2 linked regions of the Homo sapiens genome follow. The protein of the gene in region 2 purifies or fractionates together with the protein of the main gene of each other region. This does not show direct contact. Each region holds a gene or a part of one and is shown on either strand. Other genes may lie near its edges. The genes, in order: POTEE and WDR1.

What was found.
Region 1: the proteins of WDR1 (region 2) and POTEE purify together in Homo sapiens (affinity purification with mass spectrometry; 2 studies listed by BioGRID and IntAct, with this or other methods). This does not show direct contact.

Annotation. Positions count from the first base shown.
Region 1 is NC_000002.12:131,201,763-131,218,024, reverse strand, and holds the start of POTEE (POTE ankyrin domain family member E), read right to left. Parts: upstream 8,490-16,262; 5' UTR 8,206-8,489; intron 6,998-8,205; 5' UTR 6,842-6,997; intron 437-6,841; 5' UTR 342-436; exon of another isoform or gene 1-341.
Region 2 is NC_000004.12:10,109,924-10,126,206, forward strand, and holds the start of WDR1 (WD repeat-containing protein 1), read right to left. Parts: upstream 6,877-16,283; 5' UTR 6,744-6,876; coding exon 6,728-6,743; intron 6,312-6,727; coding exon 6,190-6,311; intron 1-6,189.

The sequences.
Region 1 (16,262 bases), on a different chromosome or scaffold from region 2:
CAATCCAAGCTACCAACGCCAAGCCAAGCCAAGAACGCAAAGCCAAGCCAAGCCGCTACAGGCCAGCCAAGCCGTTAAAGCGCGTGCAGCATGCGCGTGCAAGCCATTACAGGCCAGCCAAGCCGTTACGCGCGTGCGGCGTGCGCGTGCAAGCCGTTACAGGCCGGCCAAACCGTTATGCGCGTGCGGCGTGCGCGTGCAAGCCGTTACAAGCCAGCAAGCTGCTGCCGGGCGTGCGCGTGCGCGTGCGGCGTGCGCGTGCGGCGTGCGGCGTGCGGCGTGCTTATCTCAGGTGGCGTCAGGGCACGTGGCACAGACACTGGCCGATGCATGCAACGCGCCTGCTTAAGTCTTGGCGCCACGAATGTCACTGACAGCCTTGAGTTCCGGCAAACTTCGTGGGAGTCAGCTGAGCTTTCAAGCCACTGAGAAGCCTCTGGTGAAAAAAAAAAAAGCCTCTTAAAGGAGGACTGGGGCTAAGCGTCTGGAACTTGAGGATGCTGACAGCCTCCTTTGAAAAAAGCCCCCAGGACACTCCTGGCGGTGCTGTTGTGCATGGCAGCAGCTGCAGCTGGGAGCTCGGGCTGACGGAGCTGGCTGCAAATGGCCTCAAAATCGCGGAGCACAAGACGCCCACCGAGCCCAGGGCCTGCCTGAGGTGCCTTCAACACCTGCTCCTCTTTGCTCCGCACCCAGAACACGAGGCCATCAGCAAGGGGGCATTTGGGGCCACAGGATTGCAGCCAGCTCCTGCCCCGGTGCAGTGTATACAGTGTATACTGCACAGGTGTTGGGTGCACCAAAATCTCCTGAATCACCTCTAAAGAACTTACTCATATAATCAAACACCACCTTTTCCCCAAAACCCTAGGAAATAAAATGAAGAACTTTTTGTTTATGCATACCACATATTTTTTAACTTTTTTCACAGGTTCATTGAGATACAATTTATATATTATTTAATTCACTCATTTAAAGTATAAAATTCAGTTTTTTAAGTGTATTAACTAGTTAAACAATCACCACGATTTTAGAACATTTTTATGCTCCTTAAAAGAAACTTTGCACCCATTAGCAATCTTTCCCTATTTTCCCCATTCTTCCTTTAAACCTCTCCCAGCCCTAGGCAATCATCCATCTACTTCCTAAGAATTTGCCTATTCTGGAAGGATTTGCCTATTCTGGACATTTCATGTAAGTGGAATCATAATAATATAGTTACGTGTGACTTACTACTTTCATTTATCATGTTTTCAATGTTCATCCTTTTTGGAGCATGTATTAATATGTTTTTCTTTTTCATTGCCAAGTAATATTTTATTTTATGGACAGACCACATTTTATTAATCCACTCCAAAATTCATGGACATTTCTGTTGTTTCCTACTTTTTGTTGCTATAAATACCTTTATGTGTAAGGCATTTGTTTTAATTTATTTTTGGTGTATACATAGGAGTGAATTTACTGAGTCATGTGGTAATTCTGTATTTAACCTTTGAAGAACGGCTTCATTTTTCTGCATGTGGCTTGCCAATTATACCAGCAGCATATGTTGAATAGGGTGTCCTTTCCCATTTTCTTGTTTGCTTTGTCAAAGATTAGGTAGTCTGATGCCTCCAGGTTTGTTCTTTTTGCTAAAGATTGCTTTGGTTTTTCAGCATCTTTTGTGGTTCCATTCAGATTTTAGGACTAATTTTTCTATTTCTGTGAAGAATGACATTGGAATTTGACAGCGGTTGCATTTAATCTGTAGAATGCTTTGAGTAGCATTGAAATTTTGACAATATTAATTTTTTCAGTTGACAAATATAGGACTTTTTCTATTTGTCACTTTCAATTTCTTTCATCAATGTGCTATAATTTTCAGTATACAAATCGTTCACATCCTTCATTAAAATTACTCCTTGCTCTTTGATTTACTTATATATTTGTTTTGTTGCTATTATAAATGGAATTACCTTATTTTTCAGATAACAGTTTGTCATTGGTGTATGGAAACCAATGTTAATTTTGTAACTCTCAACTTTATTGAATATAGTGTTTATCAGCTGTAATGGGTTTTTTGTGGAGTCTAAAACACAGACAATCTCACCCCTTCCCTTCCTATTTAGATGCCTTTCCTTTCTTTGCCTTGTATAATTACTCTGGCAAGTCAGTTACATATAACGTTCTCAGCATTTGTAATTTGACATCAAATCCATCTGTTGTAATACACTGATTGTTACTTTTCAACTCGAAAACATGGACATTTATCACTACTCTCCCTTTCTCTTGGTCTAGTTGTTATTTAAAAAAAAACCTATCAATGCAAACCAGGATATTTTTCTACAAAACAATTTCAAACACACTAAAAGGTTTTAATCTAACAATTTTTAAACTTTCTTTGTCAATGACTTTGAACTGTGGTCTCTCGGAACAAATCCAACACCTTTAGTAGAAAAATTATGTTAATTCCTACATTATCATTGGGTCTAGCCAAGAGTTGACCAAAGGTGATATTAACAGATATGCTTATTTATTACCTTGTTCTCAAAGTTCTAGCGTAAGTCTTGAAAAATCTAGTAAAAATTTGTAAAGACTATAATTGCACAAACTCCCTCTCTCATGAGTCACACAGTTAATCCAGAATACTATTTCTAAGTTATTGTAAAGCCAACAAGTAAATATGATGTAGTGTATAAAAATAATCCTAATTGCATTGTATATTCTGTAAGTGACATATGCAATTGATACTATTTACTAAATATCTCATAATTATATTTATTTACATAGAAAAAAGGAATCAAAAACATATCTATTATCTAACGTTTAAATGATTAAAAATACTTGAGATAGCATTGCTACATAAATGCTATGTAAATGCTGAAGAAAGTAAAAATGTCATTCCCTACATTTGCTAAATATATTGTGACACATTATAAGCATTTTTAAAATATATCACTAATGGTTGGGTCAAGTCAGCAAAAATGATTCTAAGTATTTAATTGTGGAAAAATTTAGTACAGGGGATAGTATTCATGTGATGGAAGGATTTTAAATGGAACCCAGAGATTAGCAGCAGCAGTAAGTTTTAATTGCATACCAGGTGCAGAGTCTAGGATACAAGACAGAACTGCAGATAAAATCTGACTCCTTCCAGCATAGCTAGGAGACATGGCTAACTCCACCTGTCCGGAGACCTTACCTAGAAATCTAACGGCTCCAAACCAGGTAAACAAAACTATTTTCCAAAGTCAAAGCATCAATTTATGACATTAAAGCACTTCTAAAACTTAACCTCTGACTTAAATTAGACCAAATGGATAAATTTTGAAGATATTTTTATTTTACCACTGACTTTAACACCATCTTTATTTCCCAAAGATTACTGAAGTCACATGAAATAAAAGGCATTAGAGCTTCTATTTTTCTTACAAAATATTTAAGAGCTTTCATTTTCTTTTAAGCCGAGCCATTATATATACATCACATACACAACACTTCTAGACAAGAAAAGATCTAGCAGTTGTTCAGTTTTTCTTTCCCACTTTATGAACCATAACACAACTTCCACAGACTATCTACGACATGATTAAATTTATCTGACCTGTCCTGTATTTCCCTCTTTTGTAATTAGTCATTCTACTTTAGGACAACAATTTGCCATATAAGATCCTCTCTCATATAACATTTCTTTCCTTCATAACATTTCTTATAATAAATACATCTTCATATCCACAATTTTCTTTAGATCTCTCTCCCCTACTAATTTCTGATGCCCATCCAAACCAAAAAGGTCAGACAACGCAAGGCAAAACAGAGGAGAGCCTTAGATTTTTGAGAGGGACCTGTCTGCTTAAAGTTCTTGGGGTTCCATGAGGAAAACAGAGGTTTCTCCTAAAATGGGGTTTGTGGAACCTTCTGTTTTTCCTTAAGGAGTCCCAGGTTGTCAGAAATTACCTTAGATCCTCTCATGTGGGCATCAAGAGTGGCAACAAGAGAGACTGGGGTAATAATTCAGACAACTGAGCAGAAAAAGAAAAACTTACTACTGTCCCCACTGTAATGATGGATAAACTGAGGCACCATGCAGTTCAAAAATTCATGTTCACATAATTAGGATCCACAGCTCACTCTCTTAAATAATTTTGCCAACTCTATGCCCAGTCACTGATGCACCTGTATGGTAGCTCATGGCCCCCTTGGAACTTAGAACCTGGGTTTCATTCCTGCTCTACGGCTATATAATTCAACAATTTTCCTTTGAATTTGTTGGACTCTAACCCTGTATATCTCAAATTTTATTAGTATTACTGAATCTTAAAGGGAGCTGTGACGTCTTTAGTCTTTAGAAATATTAAACCTATAAACAAGGACTATATGAGGTTAAACAGTATTCAAATTTCTATATGCTTTAAAACATGGACACAATGTATTGAGAAACACACCTACAAAACTGCACCCCATCAACTCTGGACAAAAATTTAGATATTATCTCTTCAATATAACCTATCTAGTGGTATTTATACATATTCTTCCATGTATCAATGGTATATTACATGCTCATAACCTTAAAAATAACAAGTGTTCAAATTATAGGCCTTACACATTTCTACGGGCTTGAAAAATGATACAATATAGATTGTCTTTAAAGCAGTCAAGAAAATGCATAAACTTCTAGAGGAATCAGTAAAATAAAGATAAAAAGTTCACACCTAAAGTAGTAATACTAGGAATAAAAGAGGGCTCGACACTGCAGGTTCTTAGATACAAAAGTTAATAAAGCCTTGTTTTTGGTTGTGAATCTTTGCCTTAAAATACACACAGCCGACCGAGGTGGGTGGATCACCTGAGGTCAGGTGTTCTAGGCCAGCCTGGCCAACATGGTGAAACCCCATCTCTACTAAAAATACAAAAATTAGCCGGGCGTGGTGGCAGGCACCTATAATCCCAGCTACTCAGGGGGCCAAGGCAGGAGAACTGCTTTCACCCAGGAGGCAGGGGTTGCAGTGAGCCAAGATCGGGCCATCGTACTACAGCCTGGGGGACAAGAGCGAGACTTCATCTCAAAAAAAAAAAAATTACACACAATTCTCCCGACTTCCTTTTTCTCTTGCAAAGAGGTGGTGATGAACCAGGTTTGCTCAGGCAGATGGCAATACTCTTGAAAATGGTGGCAGAGAGCCAGGCGTGGTGGCTCACACCTCCAATCCCAGCACTTTGGGAAGCTGAGACAGGTGGATCACTTGAAGTCGGGAGTTCAAGACCAGCCTGACCAACATAGAGAAAACCCATCTCTATTAAAAACACAAAGTTAGCTGGGCATGGTGGCACATGCCTGCAATCCCAGTTACTCGGGAGGCTGAGGCAGGAGACTTGCTTGAACCCAGGAAGCGGAGGTTGCAGTGAGCCGAGATCGCCCCATTGCACTCCAGCCTGGGCAACAAGAGCAAAACTCCATCTCAAAAAAAAAAAGAAAGAAAACAAAGGAAATGGTGGCAGAGAAAATGAAGGCAATACAGTTCACTTAATAATCTCATAAATTAGAACTTACCCCGTGACTCCTGCATAGCTCCAAATATGTGAGAGAGATGAAATGGCTGTTTGCCACCAATATTTTTATGTGATGCTTCATTTTTTGATTCTCTGAATAACTACTTATAACGCATTAGCCCATTTATGCCAGAGGCTGCAATTTTTTGAATTTTTGCACGAGTGAAAAATCAAACCTTCTAATGACCTTGAGCAGTAGGATGTAATTAACTCCCTCATGCTTACCATTCCAATAATGGAACACTAGGCATAAGTGGTTTAACACAATCATGAAAGCATAGCTATTCAAGTAACTAATTATACAACTGATTTTTTTCCTCATCCCTAAAACATAGTAAAGGACCAGTTATTTTAAAAATACAACACAGTGACAATTTTGGCTTGTTGTTTGTTAAGGCCATTGCTTGGCATAAAGAAAACAAAAAGAGGAGGAGAAACAAGAATAGAAACATGAAATAGAAGCAGCAGCAAAAGAAAATGAAGAGGAACAAGAAGATGAGAAGAATACACAGACTAGAAAAAGCAAAAAGAACAGGTGCAGGAATTAGAAGGCCTATTATGACACCTTTTATCCCCTCCCCAATTCACAAAATTTGAAAAAGTCCAAGACCATCACAACAAAAAAGAAGGAAAAAATGACCGGGAGTGGTGGCTCACGCCTATAATCCTAGCACTTTGGGAGGCCAAGGTGGGCGGATCATGAGGTCAGGTGATCTAGACCATCCTGGCCAACACTGTGAAACCCCATCTCTACTAAAAATACAAAAATAAAATTGGCTGGGCGTGGTGGCAGGCGCCTGTAGTCCCAGCTACTAGGGAGGCTGAGGCAGGAGGATGGGGTGAACCCAGGAAGCAGAGCTTGCAGTGAGCCGAGATCGCACCACTGCACTCCAGCCTGGGCAAAAGAGCGAGACTCTGTCTCAAAAAAAAAAAAAAAAAAAAAAAAAAAAGCCACACACACACACACACACAGTCACCCCCTAAATTTTGTTAAGAATGAGACAATGCTGCCACTCATGCCTGGCTCAGAAGGAGGCCACCCTCCAGAGATTGCAAGAGAAGGGGGAGGACTCCTTTCCCTAAGTGCACCTCCACCACTGCCACCGAGGCCCATGGTACAGCACCAGCAGGTTCCTCCCCACCCCAGGTCGGACTGGGCCCTGCAGTGCTCCTACTCCCCCTTCCCAGTCCCCAGACTTTCTGCCACTACCACCACTAGCACCAATGCCAATACAGTTGCTGTCGCCGTCAATGCAGCAGCCCACCCTACAAGGTTCCTACCACCTTGCCCCCGCGGGCACCCTCCTACCACTCCTGTCGAGCTGCAGTCTCCGTGGCTGCCATCAGTCACACGAGGCGAGCTGCAGAGTCACGCCACATGCAGGCTCCAGCGTACCACAGGTGATTCCTTCTCCTCCTCCTCCAGCCTGGCTTGGAGCAGCTAGACCGGCAAAGCCAGAAAAGCCTAGAATGGGATGCAGGGAGTGGTAACGTTAGAGCCTCACCTTGTCATGCTGGCCACTGGGTGGCAGGGACCAGCTTCAGCTAAGGCACTCACACCCACCCACCGAAGTCCAGCCTCTCTTTCTGGCAAAAGGTGGCCAGGAACTGGGGCGGGTGTGAGTGCCTATGCTGAAACCACCCCCATCCAGGTGCAACTGGCCAGAAATTGCTGGGCCCACCAGGGCTGCACTCCTTGGGGAGCAGGAGTAGGAGAAACTCAGACCCAGCCAGCCCTCCCCACTCAACTGCTGGTTCCCGTTCCTGACACCTCCACCCACAGTGCCCTGTTCCCACAGTCCCCCGCGATGCCCACTAATCCCCACCCGGTAGTCCCAGGTGGTCTCCCCAACACAGAGCATGGGGTGTGGGCGGGAGGTGCAGGCCGGAGAACCGCAGTGGGTGTGGGGGCCCTGCCCTGCTCAAGATTGCACGAGCAGGAACTCTGGAGTCTGGAAAAGAGAAGAGTTACCCGAAGGAGCAAGGAGACCATGGCTGTTGCTGTCCCCACCACCTCTGCAGCCGACCAACACCACTGGCAGTATAGCCCCCATAGCAACCCTAACCTGACCCCTGCCGCCGGCAGTGTAGCCCCCGGACAGCACACCCAACACACCCTGTGCCAGTTGCAGGCAGTGTAACCCCAATACCCCCCCCCAACCACCCCTTCCACAGGCAGTGTAGCACCCGATAGTGCCCACAACCTGACCCAGCCACAGGTGTTGCTGCACAAGACAGTGCCCCAAAATCGCCGCCCCCACCCCACCACAGGTAGCGCAGCTCCTGATAGCGCACCCTGAGTAAGGGCAGTGCAGCACCCGACAACACTCCTAAACCACCCCCCGCTGCCAGCATTGTAGCTCCAAATAACCACCCAAACCACTCCCTGCCCCGGGCAGTGCAGCAGAAAATAGTGCCCCTAACCCCTCCCCCGCCACCGGCAGTACACGTTAGTGCACACAACCTGCCTCCCCCCCACCACCCCCGCCACCACGGGCAGTGTAGCCCCGGACAGCCAGCCAAAACCGCCCCCCTCCACCGCCAGCAATGCAACCTCGGAGAGTGCCCCCAACCAGCCCCCTGACACAGGCAGTGCAGCCTCGGGCAGTGAGCCCCAATAGGACACCCAACCCCTGCCCCCACAGGCGGGCAGTACATCCCCGGATAACTCACCTACACCAGGACATTTCTACCACTCTGGCCGAGCTGCAGTGTCCCACGTCACCACCAAACACAGCAAGGCGAGCCCCAGGGGCTCAGGCTCCAGCCTCCAGCATGCGTCGGTGCTGCTCCCTTCTACTCGTCTTCCTGCCTGGCAGGAGAAGCTCCCGCTACTAGTTGCCCTCCTACCGCTCTGTGGACACCACCAACTGCAGTGAGCCAGTGTCCGAGGCTCCAGCCAGAAACAGGTAGCAGCCATGCCGGTTACCAAACGCCCACACTTAAGAGCCTGAAATGACCTGACGCCACCTCCGCATGCTTTACGTACTGAGGTTACGCACATGTGGTTCCCAGACTACATGTTCTGATTGGATGAGAGAAAAACCTCTAGGCCTACTCTGATTGGACTTTATTTTCATGCTGTGATTGGTTGTCTTAAGACTGGCTCTCATCCAATCAGAACATGATAATAAAGTCCAATCCAAGTAACCCTGGAGGGTTTTTCTCATCCAATCAGAACATGCAGTCAGGAATCCTCCTGTATATAACCGCGGTATACGCCTGCTGCTGAAGGGAAGTCAGGCTCTTCCACGTTCCCGTATTTTCCTGTGGAGCTGCTCAGTGCCCGGCTTAGAGGACCAGGAATGGGTAATCACCAGCCGTACGCTGGAGGCTGGAGCCGCTACACCGTGGCTCGCCTCGCTGCGACTGGTGGTAACCGCGACCGAGACGGCAGTGCGGCGGAAGCGGTAAGAGGAGGAAAAGAGTTTTGGGATAGATGGAGGGGGTAAAGAGGGTGGTTAGTGCCAAAGGGAAGAGAGGATAGTGAGCAGGAGAGCGCGTTGCAAAAAGGCGGTGGGGAAAAGATAGTGGGAAAAAAAGTTTTTGGGTAGATGGAGGGAGAAAAACGGGGTGGGGAGCGGCAGGGAGGGAAGGTTTTGCAGAAAGATGGTGGGTAAAATGTTTATGGGTAGATGGAGGAGGAAAAGAGGGTGGCAAGGGAGGAGGAAAGAGAGGGTGGTGGGGGGGAGAAACAGCGTTGAGCAGTAGAGAGAGAAGGTTTTGTGAAAAGACAGTGGGGAGAAAAGGTTTTGGGTAGATAGAGGGGGAAAAGAGGGTAACAGGTGGGGGAAGGGAAAAGGGTAGCCAGCGGGAGGAAGACAAGGTTTTGCAAAAAGATAGTGGGCAGGAAAGAAAGACGGTGGAGAAAGAAAAGACAGTGGGTAAAAAGTGTTTGGGTAGATGGTGGGGGGAAAGAGGGTAACGAGGAGGAGGAAAGAGGGTGACGAGAGGGAGCAGGGAAAGAGAGTTGGGGAAAAAATGGGAAAATAGTTTGGGGTAGATGGAAGGCAAAAAAGAGAGTGGCAAGCAGGATAGGGCAAAGAAGAGGACGAGTGGGAAGGGGGGAAGACTGTGAAAAGACAGTAGGGAATATTCTGGGGGGTGGATGGAGGGGGAAAAGGGGAGGTGAGCAGGAGTGGGGAGAAGGCTTTGCGAAAAGACTATGGGGAAATGTTTTTGGGTAGAGAAGGGAAAGAGGGTGGCAAGGAGGAGCGGGGGAAAAGACGATGAGGAAAACAGTTTTCGGGTAGATGAAGGGCGAAAAAGTGGTGAGCAGCAGGAGTGAGGAGAAGGGTTTGGGAAAAGACGGGAGAAAATGTTTTTGCTTAGATGAAGGAGCAAAAGAGGGTGATGAGAGTGGGATGGGGGAAAAGAAGGTGGCCAGGGAGAAAGGGAAAAGACGGTGGGAAAAAACAGTGGGGAAAGTGGGTAAGTGGATGGGGAAAAGGGTGGTGAGTGAGAGAGCAGAGAAGGCTTTGCGAAATGACGGTAGGGAAAAATGGTGGGGAAAAAGTTTTGGGGTAGATGGAGGAAGAAAACGGGTGGCGAGGGGGAGGAGGCCAAAGGCGGTCGGGAAAAGAAGGTGGGAAAATAATGGTGGGAGACAAAGATTTGGGGTAGATTTTTTTTTAATCAAATTATTTGTATTTTTGCTTTTGAGTAGTTATTTATATATTTTGTGTATTAGCCCCTTGGCTGATGCATAGTTTGCAAATACTTTCTTCCATTCTCTGGGTTGTTTCTTCGTTCTACTGATTTCTTCCTGTGCTTTGCAGAAGCTTTTAAGTTTTATGTAATTACATCTTTGCTTTTGTTGCTTGTGCTTTTGACAAGTTTAATGTAATTACATCTTTGCTTTTGTTGCTTGTGCTTTTGATGTCTATTTGAAAATTCCTTGTCCTAACCAGTTTCATGAAGCATTTATCCTATGTTTTCTTCTCTAGTAGTTTTATAGTTTCAGGTCCTACATTTAAATCTTTATTTTGAGCAGATTTTTGTATATGGTAAGATAACGGCCTAGATGTATTCCTGCACATGTGGGTGTTGAGTTATCCTAGCAGTTTATTGAAGAGATTGTCCTTCCCGAATGTGTGTTCTTGGTGCCTTTGTTAAAAATGAGTACGCCATAAATGTGTGAATTTATTTCTGATTTCTCTATTCTGTTTCACTTGTCTATGTCTGTCATTCCTTCGTTTCTGTTTCTCCCCCGCCCCTTTTTTTGATAGTATTATGCTGTTTTGGTATTACCATGCTTACTACAGATTTGTAGTATGTTTTGAAGTCAGGTGTGATGCCTCCAGCTTTTCTTTTTATTCCAGATTCTTTTGTCTATCTGAGGTATTTTGCGTTTCCATGTGAATTTTAGGATTTTTTTTTCCTATTTCTATGAAGAATGTCTTTTGTAATTTAACATGGATTGCATTGACTCTCTAGATCACATTGGGTGATATAGACATTTTAACAATATTCTTCTAGTGCATGGACATGGGATATCTTTCCATTTACTTGTGTCTGCTTTAATAGCTTTCATCTGTGTTTTAGAGTTTCCATTGTGGGATCTTTTGTCTTTTTGGTTAAGTTTATCCCTAGATATAATTTTTTTGGTAATGAAATAGCTTTCTTGATTTCCTTCTTAGGTATTTCACTATTGGTGCATGGGTGTGCTGATATTGTATCTTGCAACTTGACTAAATTATTTCCTGTAGGTGATTTTGTGGAATCTTTAGGGTTCTCTCTTTCTCTATGTATATATATATGATCATGTCACCTGCAAACAGAGACAGTTTGACTTCCTTTTTTCCAATTTGGATGCCTTTTATTGCATTCTCTTGTCTAATTGCGCTACCTAGGACTTCCAGTACTATGATGAATAAAAGTGGTGTAAAAGTAGCCACACTCGTTCCAGGCCTTAGAGGAAGAGTTTTAACCTTTCCCCATTGATTATGATGTTAGCTGTGGGTTTATCATATATGGCCTTTATTGCGCTATGTTCCTTCTGTACTCATGTTGTTCAGTTTTTGCCATGAAGGAATGTTGATTTTTATTTTTTTCAGCATCTACTGAAATGATTATATGGTTTTTGTTCCTGATTCGCTGAATGTGATGTCGTACATTTATTTATTTGTGTTTTATTGAATCATCCTCATATTCCTGGGATGAATCCCACTTGATCATGGCAGATCATCTTTTTATTGTGTTGTCAAGTGCAATTTTCAAGTATTTTGCTGAGGATTTTTTTGCATCTGTGTTTATCAGGGATATTTAAAATGCCTGTGGCTTTCTTTTTGTGTTGTTTCCTGGTCTGGTTTTTGTACCAGGATCATGCTGTCCTCATAGAACAAGTTTCGAAGACTTCCTTTCTCTTCACTTTTTGGGGAATATTTTGAGTAAAATTGGTATTAGCTCTTTTAAAAATGTTTGGTAGAATTCAGCAGTAAAACCATGATTCTTGTGTTTTTGTTTGACGGAAGACTTTTTATTACTGCTTTAATTATATTACTCATTATTGATCTGTTCCGGTTTTTTGTTTATCATTCTATCTTGGGAATTTGTTATGTGTCCAGAAATTTATCACTTCTCCTAGATTTTCCAACTTGTTTTTATATAGGTGTTTTTAGTAATCTCTTACAATCCTTCATATTTCTGTGTTATCACTTGCAATGTCTCATTTTTCATCTATGATTTTTTCTTTTTCTTTTCCTTAGTCTAGTTAAAGCTTGTCAGTTTTGATTTTTTTCTAAAAAATCCAGCTCTTTGTTCCATTGACTTTTTGTATTTTTTGTTTCTATTTTTAAAATTTCTTCTCTAATCTTTATGATATTTTTGTACTAATTTTAGCATTTTATTTTTCTCATTTTTCTCACTACTTCAGGTGTACTGTCAGGTTGGCTATTTGAGATCTTTCTACTTCTCTGATGTAGGTGTTTATAGCTATGCCCTTTTCCTCTTACAACTGCTTTTGCTGCATCCCACAGGATTTGTTATGTTGTGTTTCTATTATTTTTTCAATAAATTTTTAATTTTCTTTTTTTTCATTTATTTATTGGTTGTTCATGAGCATGTATTTTAATTTCCATATATTTGTACAGTTTTTCCTCCTGTTATTGATTTCTAGTACTATTCCACTGTGGTCAGAAAAGATACTTGATATGATTTCAGGTTTTGTTTTTTTTTTTGTTTTTTTTTTGAGACAGAGCCTTGCTCTGTCGCCCAGGCTGGAGTGCAGTGGCGCGATCTTGGCTCACTGCAAGCTCCACCTCCCGGGTTCACGGCATTCTACTGCCTCAGCCTCCCCAGCAGCTAGGACTACAGGCGCACACCGCCACGCCCAGCTAATTTTTGTATTTTTAGTAGAGACAGGGTTTCACTGTGTTAGCCAGGATGATCTCTGTCTCCTGACCTTGTGATCCGCCCCCCACCCCAGCCTCTCAAAGTGCTGGGATTACAGGCATGAGCCACCGCGCCTGGCCATGATTTCAGTTTTTAAAAATGTGTTGTGACTTGTTTTTTGGCCTAACGCATAGTCTGTTGTGGAGAATAATCCGTATGCTATTCAGTGGAATGTGCATTGCGCAGTTGTGGAATGGAAAGCTGTGTAAATGTTAGGTCTATTCGGTATAGAGTACAGTTTAACTGATGATGTTTTGTTGTCTGGATGATCTGTCCGTTGAAGATAGTGGGGTGTTGATTATAGCGGAGCATTGAGGCATTCTGTTACTGTATTGCAGTCTACGCTTTAAGATCTGTTAATATTTGCTACTGTATTTAGTTGCTTGAGTGCTGGTTGCATATGCACTTGTAATTGTTCTGCTGTTTACTTCTTTCTCATTATATAATTATCTTCATATTTTTCTTTTTTTGACTGAAAGTCTATATAATCTAAGTAGAGCTACTCCTGCTTTTTTTGTTTCCACTGGTATGGGATATCATTTATCATGTCTTCACTTTCAGTCTATGTATGTTTATAGGTGAACTGAGTTTCTTGTAGGCAGTATATAATTGGGTCTTGTCTTTTAATCCATTCAGCCACTCTGTCTTAATTGGAGAATTTTATTCATTTATATTCAAGGTTATTATTAACGGGTAAAAACATACTACTGCCATTTTTTACTTGTTTTCTGGTGGTTTTGCTATTCCCTCTTTTTTCTTTTGTTCTTTCTCCCTTCCTTCCTCTTTCTCTTCTCTCTGATCTCTTTCTTTCTTTTCTTTCCTCCTTCCCTTCCTTCCTGTCTATTTGTAGTGAGGTAATTTTTTCTGGTAGTGTGTTTTAATTGCTTGCTTTTCATTTTTAGGGTGTCTATTATTGATTTTTGTTTTCCAGTTACCATGAGGCTAAACAACATAATTATAACAAGTTATTTTAAACTGAAGAAAACTTAACTTTGATTTGTCCCAGCTACTCCGGAGGCTCAGGTGGGAGGATTGCTTGACCCTGGGAGGCCAAGGTTACAGTGAGTTGAGATCACACCACTGCGAATATAAATAAATAAATAAACAAACAATAGCTTATAATGAATTCTGATTGTAAATTTTGAGATGATGATAAGGTATAAAGAAGAAAGTGCAAATCATTCATAATCTCATTACTCAACTACTCCTAATGTTTTGGTACATATGCTTCCTAATTCATAACTCTCTCTCTCTCTGTCTCTCTCTGTCTCTCTCTCTCTCACACACACTCACACACACACACACACACACGTACACATAAAATAGATATATTTTACACACAGATACAATTTTATTGTAACATTTTAAGAAAAACAGCTTTGTAATTTTTTATTTAAAAATATTGGCTGGGCGTGGTGGCTCATGCCTGTAATCCTAGCACGATGGGAGGCCGAGGCGGGCGGATCACGAGGTCAGGAGATCGAGACCATCCTGGCTAACACAGTGAAACCCCGTCTCTACTAAAAATACAAAAAAAAAAAAATTAGCCGGGCGTGGTGGCGGGTGCCTGTAGTCCCAGCTACTTGGGAGGCTGAGGTAGGAGGATGGCGTGAACCCAGGAGGTGGAGCTTGCAGTGAGCCGAGATGGCGCCACTGCACTCCAGCCTGGGTGACAGAATGAGACTCCATCTCAAAAAAAAAAAAAAAAACTCAAAACTGACATGGCAGTGGTGAGTGTGGGATCCTGGGCATCCCTGGGAGAATTGGGGCTCCCCCAAGAGCTCCTGGGACCACTGCTGGGAGGGGCCTTCAAGGTTAGGGTGGCCGGGTAGGGGCTGGGCCTGACCTGAGACCCTGCCCACCAGGCCTCTTCCAGGCCAGGTTTGCTGTGCTGGGTGGGAACGTGGGAGAAGTCACTCTCTATCTGCGGCCCCCATCAGTGCCTCTGCCACCCGGCCCAGAGGGGGCAGGGACTCTGGGGCGGACAAGGCTGTGGGGGTGGTGATTATACCCAGGATCGGCCAACATTGTCTGCACAAGGGTGGAGGCTGAGAGAGAGGCCTCGGGAATCTGGCTGTGAGGACGGGCCTGGGGTGGGAAAGCCCCCTACATGGGGAACCCTCAGGTTCCGGGCTGCTGACCGTGCCCATCCTGCTCCAGCCCACTCCCCCACTGCCCCCGGTGCCACCGACCAAACAGCAGTACCTATGCCAGCTGCTCCTGGATGCCATCCTGGCCAACATCCGCTCACCCTCTTCAACCATTCCCTGTACCGCACAATCATTCCAACCATGACTGCCATCCACAGCCCACCCATCACGTACATCCAGCTGGGCTGGGCTTCGCGGAGGGTGGCTGCCTGGCCCTGGGCCATGTGTGCCCAGTGTGGTCACCATGGTGCCTCCCCAAGGCCCCAGTGGTATGCACCCTGAAGCACAGGCTTGAGGACGATGAGCAGCAGAGCATCCCCAGCGTGCTCCAGGGCCTGGTGGCCAGGCTGGAGCCCAAGTGCATGATAAACCTGGACCCTTCTCACTGCAGCAACAATGGCACTGTCTGCCTGATCTGCAAGCTGGGCGAGTGTCCAGGAGGGCCAGGCTGGTGCAGGAAAGCAACCCCCGACCGCAGCCCCAGGTCTCTGCTGTCCAAGCCAGAGGGTACAGTGCCCAGACCCCATCCTGTGTTTACGTGCCAGCAGGCTGTCTGCTCTGTCTTCACATACACTGGGCCCAGGACAGACTGGCCATGCCTCTGCCCCCACCCCCGGAGCCCACTCACCCTCACCTCCCCAACACAGATGCGGCTCTGCTTGCCTGGGGCCTTAGGGAGGTGGCAGGCAGGACCTCTGGGCACCCATCTATGCAGGTCACTCTGGCTTCAGGTTTGGAAATCCAAGAGTCAGAGAGACATCCAGGCTTTGCCGCAAGCCTCACCAGAACCTCCCGGGGTGTGAAGAGTCCTGTTTGGGAGCAGGGCTGTGAGGCGGGGCAGGCCAGGGCTTGTCTGGGTCACGGGTACAGCCTTGTGTGTTGCAAACGACAAGGACCTCCCAAGTGTGCCACCATGTGCCCACCCACTACCCTACCCAGAGTCCACTGTGGATGGACCGGCAGTGGCTATACAGTGGGCAGACCCAGAGGAGCTGTCTGGGGGCCCAGGGCAGGCAGTGGTCATTCTGGAACACCAGGCTTCCAGTGCTGCAGGGACAGCCTCTGTGCACTCCAGCCCCTCCCAGCTCAGGCCCGTCCCTCCCCTCTTCTGACTCCCCCTACGCGGGCAGCAGTGGGTTTTCCAGTGGTCACCTGAGAGATAGGGGTCTCTGCTCTTCTTCTGTGTCC
Region 2 (16,283 bases):
CGAATTAGCTCCGTTAAATCTTACACTGATCCCATGATAACATTCCTCCCACTCTCGCAGGCATGGAAACAGAAGAGGCAAGCACACCAAGTTTCAGCCACAGACCAGCACAAAATACACTCAACAAAGAACAGAGAGGTGCTCAGGGGTATACACTGGATTGGACAGTGGGGCGGGGGTAGGGGTGGGATGCTGGCCTTTCCCTGGAGAGCAGGCAGGACCCATACGTAGAAGTGACAAGCAAGGTGACCAAAGCTAAGGACCCACAGGTCTAAGGAGCAGGCACATCGCCAGGGCAGGGAGTGCCTGCCCATCACTGAGACGGCGAAGAGACGCACACAGGGCCCTTTCCTGTGTCCACAGCTGTCCCTAACAAGGGCCTTGCAGAAGGTGGAGGTCACTCTCCAAAGAAGCATCTCCAACTACTCTTGGGCAAGGCCATCTCTCCAGTAGTCTTACGCATGAGGCTAAACCTCTTCTCTTACCTCAAAGATGGCTTCAGTATCCCTCCCGTTACCTCCAACAGGGCAAGAAATGTACCAAAAGCAACACACAGGAGGCCACAGTGGGGCTGAGAGGACCCAGGTACACATGCTGTTTCCTGCCTGGTTTCTCCCCACCTCTGCCGTGTGTCTCAACGCTCCTCCTGGAGAACTCTTATTCATCCTTCAAGACCCAACTCAAATGTGGCACTTCTCCAGCAGCTGTCCCCGCTCTGTGGCACAGCTGGCTCCTCCCTCACATTCCCAGAGCACCCAGGGCATTGTTCTTTTGAAGCACTTAACCTGGTGCCTTCGAAGGTTCTTTACCAGAGTTTTCAACCTTGGTACCCCTGGCATTTGGGGCTGGACAGTTCTTTGTGGAAGGACGGCCATGTACCTTGTCGGATGTTTGGCCACAACCCTGACTTCAGATACCAGTGGCACAAAAATGTCTGCAAACGTTGCCAGATATCCCTCAGGGGAATGAGGTGGGGGAAATTACCCCTCCCTGAAAATCACTGATTTTAATCCTGGTCCTCTGTGGCTTAGGGTATGGCTTGCCAAGACAGGGGCTTAGTGAACATGTGTGGGAAACGTGAGAGCCAGAGATGGCTGCACCACGCAACGGAACCTGCGCTGACGCCGCCTTCATCTTTGAGCAGCTTCCTAATTGGCTTCCCTGCCTCAGATCTCAGATACAGAACTTCTCCTTACCGTAGGCTGGATCTGATTACTTGTCTGTGAGACCTCTGAATGGCTCCAGTGGCCTTCAGAGCAGGGCTGCGCTATGGTAGGGCTGTGTGAGCCACCTGCCACCACTGCACACCAGCACTTCTCAGCCTGGGTCCTGTCCACTCCCCTCACGCTCAGTGCCACAGTAACAGCCCATAAGCACCCGGCCCTTCGGTCCTCCCAGATGTGGTCCCATCTGCAGAAGCCCAGCGTCCTGACTGGCACCTGCAGCCACTCAGATTCTCCTGAGATGAAGGCCCCCCACCACCCTCTGCTTCCCCTGCCATCAGGTGGTCAGACTGAAGGCCTAGAGGTTCCTGGCTCTGCACCTGGCAGGCGCTGCTGCCAGCTCGTTTGCACCCAGGTGATAATCCAACGCACCACTTCCTTCTGCCACCTAGAGTTTATTTCACTCCCACCCAGGACAGTGAGCTCCATGTGGGCAGGGCCTCCATCCTGCACCCCCACAGGCCAATGGCCATCTGGATACACGCAGGTAGTCAGCAGGCGTCCAATTCCGGAGAAGCAGCTAGGTCAGTCCTCAAGCCCTCTGTCATGCCACCATTACCCCCAACCCGCAGGAAACACAGGTGAGTCCTCTGCATGTGAATGGTGGCAGCTCACACCAAGGGAAACCAAGAGTGAGCCCAATACCCTCCCCAACCCCCCACTTGGTCTGCCCCCTGTTCAAGGAGAAAAGTCCACTGATACTGCGCCTGGGTTCCCAGCAGTGTCAAATTGCTATAAACCTTGCACTCCCGGAAACTCAATTTTATAGACATCATTTTTCCAAATGTGTATTTTAGTTCTGGAATCTAGGAACTGGATACTTTAAAAACCAGGCCCCAAACTTGCCTGCATAGCAAATCTGCTGGCTGCCTGGCAGCACACAAGAGGGCCTCTGTTGTGAGGCAAAAGTTGCTTTTTTTTTTTCTTTTTCTAAACAGGGACTACTGGCACTACTGGCATTTTAGGCTGGGTAATTTTTATTGTAGGATGGTCCCGTGCCCTGTTTAGAATCACAAACAGGTTCGTTCACAGCCATTGGGGGTGACCCTTCCCAGTCTTTGCACAGAGGTCATAAGAGGCAGAGGTGATGCAGGCAGGGTAAGGAAACTTAGAAGGAACCACCCCAGACCTAAGGAGGTACCAGCACCTGCAGGAAGCCTTCCTTAGACCCCCGAAGCACAGACTATCCATCCCTTCTCCGTGGGGAACTAATGTCTCTCAAACACAGTGTACATATGGTTCACTGGAATCCCCTTCTTGGAGCTCTCTCCTTCTGGAATATTAGTTTCTACATGGCCACCATTATAGTCTTTCACTCTACAGAGGAGAGTTGCCTCTCCAGGTGAGGCAACGAGATGTGTTGAAATAAACAGGTAAGAAACACCCTTTTTCTACAAGTTTAAGAAGTGCCATTATGCTGGGTTCACAAAACAGCTTTTAAGTCAACAAAATAAATGACAGAGGGGGCTCCAAGTGCAAAGCTGGCAACGGTGCTCGCCTCTTAGGTATGAAAGGCGATTCCACAAAATTTAGGTCCGGCAATCTACACTGAGCTGAGCTTTCCTTGTTCTCATGCAGTAAGACCTCAGTGGCTGCCTATTATCTTCACGACACAGCCTGGTTTTCCAGGCTTTTTAATCAATGAGTAACTCACTGAGCACCTACTGTGTGCCAGACACTCTCTTAGGCGAGGACACGGCAGTGACTGAAAGAGAGGGGAAAGCCCTGCTGGCCTGGAGCTGATGCCCAGTTAGGGGGACAGGCAGATACCTATGTACACTTGTAGGCAGCCGTAGCCTGCTGCTTGTTAGCTTGCTTCCTACTTATTGTCAGCAATGAGAAAGACAGAAGGCCGGGGATGGAAAATTCTATTCCGGGGACACCCCTCTACTAAGGTGACTACATCTAAGTATAAACCAAAGGGAAAGGCCTAGTGTGGTGGCTCACGCCTGTATCCCAGGACTTTGGGAGGCCAAGGCGAGCGAGCAGATCACTTGAGGTTGGGAGTTCAAGATCAGCCTGGCCAACACGGCGAAACCCCGTTACCTACTAAAAAATACAAAAATTAGCCAGGTGAATTGGCACGTACCTGTAGTCCCCACTACTCGGGAGGCTGAGGCAGGAGATTTGCCTGAACCCGGCAGGTGGAGGTTGCAGTGACCCAAGATCACGCCACCGCACTCCAGCTTGGGCGACAGTAAGCCTCCACCTCAAATTAAAAAAGAAAAACCAAAGAGAAGACAGGGAGCAAGACTTGCAGCTATCTGAGAAAATGTCCAGGCAAAGGCAATAACTAGCAGGTACCAAGACAGATGTGTGGCATGTTCAAGAAGCAGCAAGGAGGCAAGAACGCTGGAGCCGAGGCCACGGTAAGGACTCTGGCTTTCACCGAGGTGGGAAGCCACTAGAGGCCTGTCTTGTGTTTCAGCCACTCCAGCGAGTGTTGTGAACAGACCCCCAGGGCAACAAGGGTGAAAGCAAGGAGACCTGTTTGGTTTTCGGGAGTCTGGGGGCAATAAGTCAGGTGGGGGAAGATAGCTTAGTCGTGGGTGGAGGCAGAGGAAGCCAGGGAAATCTGTTAGATTCTGAAGATACTTTGAATGTGGAGTCAGAAGGATTTACTAAAATTAAAATGTGGCGCAGTAGCGAAGCAGAGAGTGAAACAGGAGTCCAAGGTTTGGGGCCTGAACAGCTGGAGGAACGGTGTTCCCTTTTAGGGGAAGAGCACGTGGGAAACACAAATTTGGCTTGGAGTATGTATGTTGAGTCTGAGATGTCAATGAGACATGTTAGATCTTCCATGATCTGGTCCTCCATTTCTTCCCTCTTCCCTCCCTGAGCCTGCATTCCAAACAGACCATCATCCTTCCTGAACGGTCATGCCAATTCATGTCACTTTTTTTTCCAAGAGTACTTTGCCCTAAAAAAAATCGTACCCACCTTTACTTGAGTACCCAGTCCACCCATCCAACTAACAAGAGACTCAGTGCCTGATCTACATCCAGCCCAGGGAGGGCTATATTAGTAGCATCTCGTGCTGACCTGGCATTGCAGAAACTTAAAAATAATTGAGAAGGGAAACAGGGTAACCCCTGAGAAGAAAATGGCAAACCACGGGGAAGGGGTAAGAATACAGAGCTCAGAAACAGGCAGAATGGGTTTCACAAGCTGGGAAATGCTTTCTGCAAAGGGGTGCCTGTCCCTGAATGACCACTCCATTAGAAGCAGCTCCAGTTACTGGCCTGCCTCACCTTGCTAAGTCTGACTCCTCTTTAGAGTAACGGACCCATGTGGGGTGGAAAGAGATGCTACAGTTTAAGAAGCTATCACAGGGCCAGATGCACAGCAGGTACTTTATGTGAGGCCCCCTCCCTGGAAGTCAATGTGGACTGCAACGACAGGGAAGGCCTGGTTAGGGGCAAAACGAAATATCCTACTGCTCTGTATCCGAGGACGTGTTAGTGGATTTTATTTGCCAAACTACTAAATATCTCTTTAGGGTTGTCTCAATTTTTATTTTCTCAAAAGCCTCAGGACCTGCCTTCGGAGACTTCCAGATCATTACCATTAGATCCCTGGTGATTTTCTCCAGTTCTAAGCAAGGCCCTTCGGCTTTCTAGGAATCTGTGTGACTAGCAAGTTGTTAGCACCTTCAAAGCACATTCACACCCGCCCACCCCCTCATTTGAGGGGCCCAGCAATCCAGGGCAGGTAGAGCTCTGTCTTCCAGCAGAGGAACAGCAGCGACTGCCTGGGTTAACGAGACAGATGCGGGCAGAGCCAGCAGCTCTTCGGACCAAGAGGCTTCTCCTTTCACAGAGAAGGAAACTGAGACCCAGAGACCCCTTCATTCCCTCAGCCAGTTGCTGGCCTCCTGGAGGGCAAGTGTGTCCGATCAACAGTCCCAACCTACCAAGGGAAATCAGGCTGACTTTAAGTTGACAACCCTTGTATGCCTATGGCATCAATCAAAACATACATCTTTGTGCCAGCCGCCCCCACTAAGCACAGCACAGGAGAAATCACCCAATGGCCGGGCCGGCACCTCCAACTCCCACCCCACCAATTCCATCACTCAGGCTGAGGAAGGGAAAAGCAAAATTTAAGCGTGTAACCCAGGAAGGGAGGGAGACTGACAGACTGGGTCACCCCAACAATTACAGAGGAATAACATGAATTTGCAAGGATTTCCCAAGGAGCTGGCTCTAGAAGCCTTTTCAGCCTGGGTACCGGAGGCTTGCAGAGAATGATTCATGGGAAAACACTGCTTCCTGTTTTTGCTTTGGGGCTTAGATCCATGGTGGCAGATCTGGCTGGCCCAGAGGCCCGGGTGTTTTTCCGGGCTCTGCCATACTGGAAGACCAGGGTATTAACAGCGAGTTAGCTGAGTGCCATTCCATTCAGCAAGGGCTCAAAGTGCACCAGGCACCGCTGGGCTTGAGGGACGCCAGCAGCTCATTCATTCCATCTGCCCAGCCAGCAGGCGAAGCGAGAGTGGTCATCATCTCATCATCTGTTTTACAGACGAGAAAACTGGGGCTCAGAGATGCCCAAATCGCCAATCTTCTCAAGGTCACGCAGCGGCCGACCGGGTCAGTCTGATCCCTCAAATCCGGAGCCCTTGCTTTTAAGGAATGAACTAATCTAATCTCCCATCCACGTACTAACCAGGCCTGACCGTGCTTAGCTTCCAAGATCAGAGGCGATCCGGCGCTTTCAGGGTGCTATGACCGTAGACAGAAACGAACTAAGACTCAGTTTCCTCATCAAGAAGGAGCAGACAAGGACCTGGGTGAATCTGAGGCCGGCTTCCGGGGCTCCGAGGTGTGGCTCCCGGTAGAGGGGGCGTGGCGCCCTCACCCTCCCCGGGCCAATGGGCAGGAGGTGAGAAGTGGAGAGGAAGGCGAATTATCCCATCCCAAGGTGGCTCCGGAGCAGAACCGCGCCCGGGGTAGGGGGTACTCACGTCGATGTTCCTTAGGATGACGCACTTTCCATTGGTGTACAGAAAATTGTTGCCCTTAGGGTCGCCGCCGATGATCTTGGAGACGCCCCTCTCCACCTGCGGGAGGCTGGCGAACACCTTCTCTGCGGAGACACAAATGCGGCGGGGCATGTCAGGGCAGGGCGGGGACGGCGGGGACAGAAGGGAGAAGGAGCCCCGGACCGGTCTCGGCCGGTCACCTGTTGACTGCGCCGGGAGGGCGGCCTCCACTTTCCACGAGCGCCAGGAACCGCGCGACTTCCTGGTCCGCGCCCCGGGCCAGGCCCTTGGGGGCAGCGGGGCTCCTCCGGCTCGGCCCACGGCGCCAACTTGGGGGCGCACCCCCCGTCGGGGGTCCCGCCCTGCACCACCGAGGGCGGCCCCGCCACGCCTCCGGCCGGCGCCCGCACCCCTCCCCCGCGCCGAGGACTCCCCCGCCACCCGCACGGCGCCTAGGGGCCGGGGACCGGGGCCGGGGCAGCGCGGCGGCCGCTCGGGGGCCCCGCGCCGCGGCACTTACTGATCTCGTACGGCATCCTCGCCCACTTGTTACCGCGCCGCGCTCGCCGAGAGCCTCCGGGGCCGGCCCGCGCTGCGAATTACACCTCGCCGAGGCCGAGCCCGGGGACTGGAGCCGGAAGGCGGCACCGGGCGTGCCGGGAGTGGAGTGGGCGGTCCGAGGCCGGGGCTCAGAGGCCAGCTCGCGCCTGCCCTGCGCGCTGTGGTTGCGGACGCCCCGAACCCGGAAGCGCGGTCCCGCGCGCGGCTCGCCCCCAGCTTTGACCATATATAGTCAAGCGCTCGGCTCGGCGGCTGCGGTCCCGGCGAGCCTGCGCGGACCTGGCGCTCCCCTCCCCCGCCGGCCCCGGCCCCGCCTCCGCCTTGCTCGCCCCGCCCCGGAAGTGACGTATAGCACGCCCCGCGGGCCCTTGAAAAGGCGGCGCAGACAAGCAGCCGCGTCAGAATGCTTCTGGGAGTCGGGGGGTGGGTGCCTTTCTGTTGCTAGCTTGTAGGAGAAGCTGGGCTGTAGGAAGTTTATTTGCGGGGGGGTCTTAAAGACGCTGAAAGTACTGGCGGGCTTTGGTGGGGGTCTGGAAAAACCTCTCTGTACCTGTGACCGCGTTGCGTGGCGGGCGCTCCCCGGCCTCTCCTTTTTGACCGGTCCCGGGCGTTGCCCAGCCGCCAGTCCTCCTGCTCGGGTTTTGTAAGCAGGAGAGGGATGCTTTTTACGTCTTCTTAAAGTACGGTTAAGTGCCCTTGCTTGAAGTAGTTGCTGGCAACAAGAACGTAGGGGTTACTCTTTGTTGGGCCTGAACTCGTGCTTTTTCTCTCAAAAGTTGAGCTTTTGAAAGGCAAAAAAGGCGTGGGGGATGGGGGAGCTGTCGGTCTTAAGGAAGTTAAAGGTTATTTCCTAAACAAAACAAGTCTCACTCCTAAAACCAGGGTAGTGGCTCAGTTGTGGCGGGAGAGCAGGGGCTGTAAAGTGTCCAAGTTTCTAGTCTCATCTTTCAGTAGGATGGGTACAAGCTTTCCCCTTGGGGCTCTGGGGGCTGGGAGGGTTGTAAAAGTGGGAGAAAGCAAAGTATTTGGCGGGGTGCGGGCGGGTAGCTGAATGTTGTTGTAAGTGGAAGAGGAATGCTGTTGGCGTCTTTCTCTAAGCACGGTTAAGTGCTTTTTCTTGAAGTAGTTACTGGCAACAAGAACGTAAGGGTTACTCTTTGTTAGGCCTGAACTCGTGCTTTTTCTCAAAAGTTTAGCTTTTGAAAGGCAAAAGTGGGGGTGGGGGCGCTGCTGCTTTTAAGGAAGTTAAAGGTTATTTCCTAAGAAAGCAAAACAAGCCCCACTTGTAAAACCCGGGTAGTGGCTCAGCTGGAGAGCAGGCGCTGTGAAGTGTACAAGTTTCTAGTCTCATCTTTCAGTAGAATGGGTACAAGCTTTCCCTCGGGGCTCTGGGGGTGGGAGGGTTGTAAAAGTGGGAGAAAGCAAAGTACGTGGGTGGGGGGTAGCTAAATGTTGTTGTAAGCGGGAGATGGATGCTTTTGGCGTCTTTAAGCACGGTTAACTGCCCTTGAAGTAGTTGCTGGCAACAACGTAGGGGTTACTCTGCTGGGCCTGAACTTGTGCTGTTTCTCTCTCTCAAAAGTTAAGGTTTTTAAAAGGCAAAGGCGTGGGGAGAGGGGTAGGGGAGCTGCTACTTCTAAGGACGTTAAGGGTTACTTCAGAGCAAAACAAGCCCCACTTCTAAAACCAGGGCAGTGGCTCAATTGTGGAAGGGAGAGCAGGGAATGTGAAGTGTCCAAGCTTCTAGTCTCGTCTTTCAGTAGCGTGGGTACAAGTTTTCCATTGGGGCTCTGGGGGCTAGGAGGGTGGTAAAAGTGGGAGAAACCAAAGTACTTGCGGGTAGCTAAAAACTCTGAAACCCACGCTGTGAGCGGTTCCTGCTTCTCTGAAAGGTCTGTTCTGCTTAAGGTTGTATCAAGGTTAGTCTCTTGCTACCTACTTCTGTAGAGCAGTCTCTCGTGGCTCACCTGGGTTAGTGGCCATGTTGCCTGTCTCCTATTCTTCCTAACCTTGTGTGTTCTCCAGGTAGCTGAGTGATCCATCCGAAGTAAAATATTCCTCAGCTTGTCTGTAGGGGCTCCAAGTTTCATGAAGTAAAAGCTAGTCTTGAAAACGGCCCATTAGGGTCCTGGATGACAGTCTCCGGGTCACTTAGACTCCGTTGTCCGCCTCCCCTCATCTGTATCATCTTTGCCTTGGGTACTGGCTTCGGAGGGTGTTTTCCTGAAACTCTTACCTGAGATCTACTTGGCTGACTCCTGTGTCCTTCAGAAGTACTTAATTGCTCAAATGTTAGTTGATGAGTGTCACCGGTCTCATTTTAAATTGCAACTTCAACCCCTTGCAAACACTGCTTCTCATTCCCGCGTTCCCTAACTTTAACTCTCAGGAATAACCCTGACACCTGGAAGATGCTCCTAGGGATGACCCCACTCCCCACCCACAACTGTTAATCAGGAAATAACGGATATGAAAGTAGCTCTGCGAACTGAGGAGCCGTGGAGAATGTACAAAACAGATTCCTAAAGTAAGATACGCAGGCCCGGCTTGTAGGCCGCTGCATCTGCTTTGATAACTTAGAACTCATCAAATCACCTTGAGACCCTTAAAACAAATGGTATAATTGCATTCACAGGTAGTGCATTCGTGTAACAAGATTAAGAAAACGAAGGACCAACTTCAAGCTCTTGCAAGCTGGTAACCTTTACACTCGTGCATAAAGCCTTGCTGGAGTTGACACTGAAAACTAAACAGTCGAACTTGAGTAAAACATATCCAAACTCCCAGCTGCTGGGCTCTACAGCTTATTTTTAGCTTGAAAGTTACATGTTGGAGCTGCAGAGGCTTTATGGTGGTGGTGGGGGAGCTGTTTGTTCGTAGTCACTTGAGTCTATATGAACGTGGCAGGAAATCTGAAGGATGTGAAAGGAAAATGGGAAACACCAGGGTGTTCCAGGATTTTCCCTGTGGGGCGCGAGCTCAGTTTGGTGTTGTCAGCTGTGGGAGCTTTAACACTTGAACCGTCTTTACTGTGGGTCTAGCCTATTCGTTGGGCTCCCCTAGTCACCACTCATGCCTTCGTGTATCCTGTTGTGTTGGGCCCCCACTGAATTAAATAGGGATGGCACCATGTTCGAGAAGCCGAGGCGACCCAGAGCCAATGAACACATATGGTGTATGGAGGGGACTTGAATACAGAGTGGTCCAGAGCAGCCAGCTGGGACAGAACTGCGCTTCAAAAAGCAGTTGATACAGATCAGGTACACCTACACTCCCAAGGTGTGGCTAAGCCGCTATCAGGTGTCAAGCGTGTAAGGGTCACTGCCAGGATATACTTGAGTTGCTTTCAGCTGTCATAACTCTCTAATAGGATGGGGATCCTGAGGTCTGCATACACCAGTGGTTCACATCTCTGAGGACCCAGCTACTTCTCTGGCCCTTTCTGGAACCTGTCTACTTGGAGCTCCGTAGGAAGGGTCTGAAAGGCCCCTTACTCGCACTGAACGACAGCCAGAATAAGACTAATTTGCCTTCCCCTTCCCTGCTGATTTCTCTGGGGTGCTGCTTCCGATAGTGACCAGCGTCCTTGCATCTCCAGCTGCACTGACCAGAAATCTCACCCCCCACTTAGGTTAAAGCCTTCACTAAATCTAGTTGCTTAGAACCTCTGTATCAAATCTTTCTGTAGCCACAGCCCTGCTTTGGTGCTCTTTAACCTGGGTTATTCTAATTTCTTCCTGACCAGTTAATCTGTATCTGCTTGGAGCCCCTTACTGCAGCCAGAGAAACTTTAAAAGCTTGTTGAGCCTTGGGTAGCCTAGGTTTCTATCTTGAGACCGAACATCCTCCCTGGGCTTCTGAGACACTGGCATGCTGAGGCTCTGCCTGGCTCAAGGAGCAAGTCTCCTGGGTCATTCTGTTCTGGCACCTGTCTCTGGGTCTTCACTGATGCCTCAGTTTAAGGCCAATCCACCCTCAAGCTATACTCCCATTTTGTTGCACACTGGTTTGCTTATGACTATGGGGTTCATCAGCGTCTCGACTCTCCCCTTTTTAGGGATTGAGAGCAGGGACCTTGTTGCTCGAGCACTTGTTGCAGGGGCCCACCCAGACAATTGGAAACAGAACGCAGGTGTGCCAGATCTATGAACACCTGCGTGCTTTTCAGACAGTGGCAATTCTTCCTTTTGCTGTGTGAGCGAGCAACATAAGTATCACCTGAACTTAATTCTAAAGTGGCAACAATGTGTTCTTGAAACTTCTAAGCAGCAGCAGCTTAGGATACTTAACTCTTCGACTACCTTTGGGGTAAACTAGCTCCAATTGGGTAACTTGGGCAAACCGCTAACTGGCGTCAGGTGCTAAATGAGCTGTTTAACAGCTTTCCACTCAGGGGAAAACAAGTTTGGAGTGGGTTCTGAACGCTTTATGTAACGCAAACAGTGGGGGCGTGTGGATTCCTGGAATGCACCTTGTCCTCTGAGCACGCTCTGAGTCCTGGCTTCTAGAGCCACAAACTGCAAATACGTCAGATGTGTGAGGCCTATACTGGAAGCTTTGGGGAGGAACAAAGCCACAGGAGAGCTGAATTTCTCTCCAAAGCCTGTCAAGCTGCTTCCTCACTTTCAACCCTCATGGGTTCTGTCCAGGCTCAGGAAAAGGGGGCTTTCTCTTTCCTGTTGCTTCAACTGTATCAACCCCCTAGGAAGAGCCCTATGCAAGGGTAGCGCTGCTCCCGTCTAGCTCACCCTGTGGACTGAACCCCCGCCCTTTCCACAAAGGACTGTTGGGTATAGTGGGGGAAGCCTTTCTGCTCCAGGAATTTCAGTCCCTTTTGCAGGCCTGTCCCTGTCTCATAAATAAGCTCAAGTCATATTCAAAGTTTCATCTCCGGAGTGTCCCTGGAGTAAATCACCTTTATCTACTACCTCAAGCCAGTCTCGCTGCCTCCACCTCCCCATCTGCACAGGGAGTTGGAGTGATTGCCAGTGAGTCCTCTAGAGGGTCTGACACATGGTGGGAAGTGGCTGCCCACAGCCTGAGTTAATGTGTAACGCTTTTAGCTTCGCTGTCAGGCTTTCAGATCTTTAATTCTCAAATCTCACTGGTTGGATCGAGTCCATAGTCCGTTACTAGCTGTGACTAGGGAGGGTGGTGAAATGCATGGCAAAAGCAGCTACTGGTATCCACCTTTTGACCTGGAAAAATCCGGGTTGTGGGGCCTGGGCTGTCCCTCCAAAGTGAACTGGAAACCGGGCTACCTTGCCAGAAGTGCTTGGATGCCTTTGTCAGAGGACTGGTAACAAAGCCTTTAACCTGCTAGCATAAACCTTATGCAAAAGGGGTTAGCCCGGTTAATTCTGCCAAGGCAAGAAATGAGTTATCTGCAACCCTCCAGTGAACTCGTTTACTGAATCCCTTCTTGGGGGGCCCTATGTGTTGTAAATACCTTTCTTTCCAGTTGAGCAGCCCATTGGAAAGTGGGTTTTGCAAATAAGCAAATAACTAACACCTGCATGCTGCAGCAGCTTTAAATCCCTGCAAGTCATGGAAGCTTGGGCATAACTTTTCAGTTTGAGGTTACTGAAGGATGTACTTCTAAACAGCTAATCAACGGCATAACTTTAGTAACACAGTACAAGGAATATATCCTACTTGGGTTGTCTACCCTTGTTTCTTAACCATAGCTTCAGGCAACGAAAGCTATCTGATCATCAAGATCCCGGTGAAGGGGGTGGTAACTGGGTGGAGTTGAGCCTCCACACTGGAGGACCTAAGGCCGTGTCTTGCACTGCTTCGAAGCTCCTGTAGCTGCAAAAGAACTCTGGGGACAGTTAAACAATTCCCCTGTCCCATTCTTCTTAAACTCCCATAAGTGATAGAACACAGTCGCTTCTGTCTACCTGCTGCCTGAGACTTGGTGTGTTGCTGTGAGGCCTGGTGACAGCCCCGGCCTGTCCTTTCCCGGGACCCTTCCTGGAACGTTTACTTACCCTCATACTTGCAAGCACTTCGTGTGAGCTAGATGCTGGGTTTGTGGGCCCTTGCCCTTCATCTTACATCAGGGAAGGGAACTTGGGTTGGAACTTTGCCGAGTTGAAAAGCAAGTGATGCAACCAGGAGTTAAACAGGTTGGGTCTACAGAGTCTAAACTGTCCTTTACACGTGAAAGGGCTGAAATGGATAGATCAGATATGGAAGTTTTAATTGTGCCCCTAAATAACCAACTTTTCCAGTGAAGGTAGAATCTTAGCATGCTCTCACCCAAGTTCAAGGATAGCGTCAGTCGCTCTCCAGTTGAAAGCTTTGTCTTTGGGTAACTACTTACCGTCCTAGGGTTTCTGCCTTTTCCTTCTGACTCAGTCCACAGTGCCTGGGTCTTTGCTGGCCTCCAGTTGTGTGGTCAGAGCTAACGTGTTTGGCTGTTGAGCACCGGTGTCTGGCTTGTTTTGTGCCCACAGTGCAGGGGCTTGGCTACGTGGTCACTGGGCATCCTGTGGTGCTGTGGGGGTCTGGTCTGAGGGCTGTGCCAGTGCCTGTTGCTGATATGGAGATTCCGGTCATGAGGCTGTTCGCTGCAGCGAGTCTCCTTGTACAGACCCTGTGGTGTGGCCTTCTTGCCCATTGGCCTGAGGGCTTGGGTCCTTCCTCTGCTCCATGAGCATAGAAACTCTAGATCTCAACACCCTGTGTTTGAGTGTTCAAGACTGTTAAACAGAACTGGATCCCAGCCCTCTTTTCCAGGAGTGCTGAGGATCTTTGAGCCCTGACACAGCCACAAATCCATCACAGCTCCTGCCAGCACCTCCCAATGCTGCCCCTGGTTCCTTGGCGGTGGCCTCCGGCCATTTCCAAACACTTCTGCTATTAGCTGCCTTTATAGTCGGCTTCCCTCAACACGTGGACCAAAGGGTCAGCTTTTCTGCCAAACAGGATGGACATAGATTGTTAGTGGAGGAGGGCTCTTGTATTTGTTGCCATGGAGACAGTGACCAGCTGGATGCCCTGCCTCTCCGTTCGCATGCCTCCCTGTGGGGGAGGGGGGGAATCGCACTGCGGATGGGCCTAGGGAACTTGGACATGTGTCATTCAGCCCTTTGCTCCTTTGACTCAGGCTCTGCCTGCCTGTGGTAAACAGGTGCTCTGATCTGCTCCCTCCAAGTGGGTGGTGTTTCTGGGTAGACATTGCCCATCCCAGCAGTGGGGATCTGGTAGTTGAGATCTGCATGTGGCTGGGAAGCTGTACTGCTCTGCTAGGGCTGGCATAACAAACTGCTATGAACTTGGTGGTTTCAACGGAAATTCTTTTCTGGAAGCCAGGAAATCTGAGATCAAGAGGTGGGGTGTGGTTGGCTCCTTGCCAGGCTGTGAAGACTGTTTCAGGCCTCTAGCTTCTGATGGTCTGCTGGCATCTCTGCTCCTTGGCCTGTGGGACCACCACCCCATCCCTGTTTTCATCCTTAATGTCTTCTCCCTGTGCCTGTTTCCGCTTCCCTGTTTAAAGGACACTGGTCCTATGGGAGTAGGGCCCACTTTGAGTTTTACTTCATCTTAATTGCAGCAGCAGGCCACCCTGTCTCTAAACAAGGTCACACACTGAGAAAATACTTCACTGTAGGGGCTGAGTTTCATCTATATTGAAGGTAGGGCTTGCCCTGTCATCCTCCCACCCGTAAAGCCCCAACCACCAGCCTCTCAGCGCCTTGGGGACAAGGCAGAGGCGGTTGAGTTGCGGTGACCCACCTTGTTGACAGTGGCAGTGGTCACACTGTAAAGTGTTGCCACCCATTCTGGGGCACCAGCCCTTGGGGAAACTGGACTTAAGGCACAACCTGGATCAAGAGGCTAGGTGCCTGCACTATATCTGCCTGGCAAAGGAATCACTGAGGAAGTGACTGAAAAGTGCTTCCCTATCTCTGACCCTGGTTTTGGCTTTCATCCTAAAATGCTCTAATGAAGCGGCCTAAAACACATGGCTGCCTTAGAAAACAACCACTGGAGCATTTGAGGAGTTGGCATCTCCCCCGCCTTTGGGGACCGTGGGACCAGTTTCTTAGCTCGGCTGCTGTGGCCATAAAAGTACTCCTGCTTCTAGGCATGACCCGGAGGATGGTGGTGGCCACAAAGCAACCAGGAGTGGGTGCTGTCTCAATGTCCCTGGCTTGGGCCCTAGGTCTAGACAAGGACCTCGGTCCACTTTGTTCCGGTCTGGGAGGGTTCCAGTCATTCCCGATGGCATTGCTGGGATTGGACAGGAAGTCCCTACCATACACAGGCAACTCAGGTTCATGTAGAAGGAGGCTCCTCAATAAGGGAAAACATCAAAGGGGGAAGTTTTAGATGAATGAGCTCAGACTCCGATGAAGCTGATAGACCGAGTAGCTCGACACATTCTGGAATATCTGGCAACTGGCATGGACTCCGTAAAAGGATTTTAATTTTTGTCTGCTTTTCGAGGTACATTTAGGCACAGCTGTTAAATTGGTAGTTATGTCCTATTGGGAAAGATGCTGCAGTTGTGGCCACAGTGGAGGCTTCTACACACGTGGGACACGGGGGACCCTGAGAGACTTGGCCCTGCTGCAGATTAAAGATGACCGAGGCAGTATAGTGTCGGCAGGTCAGCCACATACCTAGTGCTTGCCTGGCATACTGGATGTTAAATGATTTTCAATCTCATCTTAGGTAGTACGGGAAAGTGGTCTCTAATTTGTTCCCCATATGATTTGTAGGAATGGTCTTAAAATGCTGGGTGGTGAAATCAACGTTGTGTTCCTTGTAATATTTGAAACCTGGAAACTGCAAGTGCTCAGTCATAAGAGCTGGTGTCAGCCACTGGGTGTCTATTTGGTTCACAAAGCTTACTTCAGCCCTCCCAAATGTTCTCCCACTCCACATCAATACCCAGCTTCAAAAGGAGCCTCCAAGCAAAGTGTTTTTGGGTATCAACCTTGACCGTGGAGGAATTGTGAAGCCAACGTAGCAAGATACCTTGATCATGTGGACTATCACAACCTGTGGGATTGTGAACATCTAGAGTCATGTATGCACCTCACATGTCTACCGAACACCAAAGGGTCAGACACGAATGCAGTATTCTGGAGCTTGGTGCCTAGTCACTTATTTCCCCTCTGTAATACAAATTGTTGGTGCGTTATAAGGATAAAACGCAGGCTCTTAAGGCCTGGTCATATTAGAAGTGCTCGAATGTCATGTACATGTTAGGTGGCTGGAGGTACTATGGAAAATAGGAACATGTTATCTCTTCTGTGTGAAGGTCAGGGAGGCTCTTGTAGGACTCTAAAGTTGATATGTGAAGGATGTGAAGAGCATAGAGTAGTATGTGATATGCTTGGCAAAGGAATGGAGTCTCCCTGAATACCCGTGTGGAATGGAAGTAGGGCTGGGAAATTAGAGCCAGGGCGAGTGGCTGGGGCTGCTTCATGGAGGTTCCCCAATGACCTCATGATCAGATGCCATCAGGATGTGTCAAGCGTGATGTGGATCAGATTGAC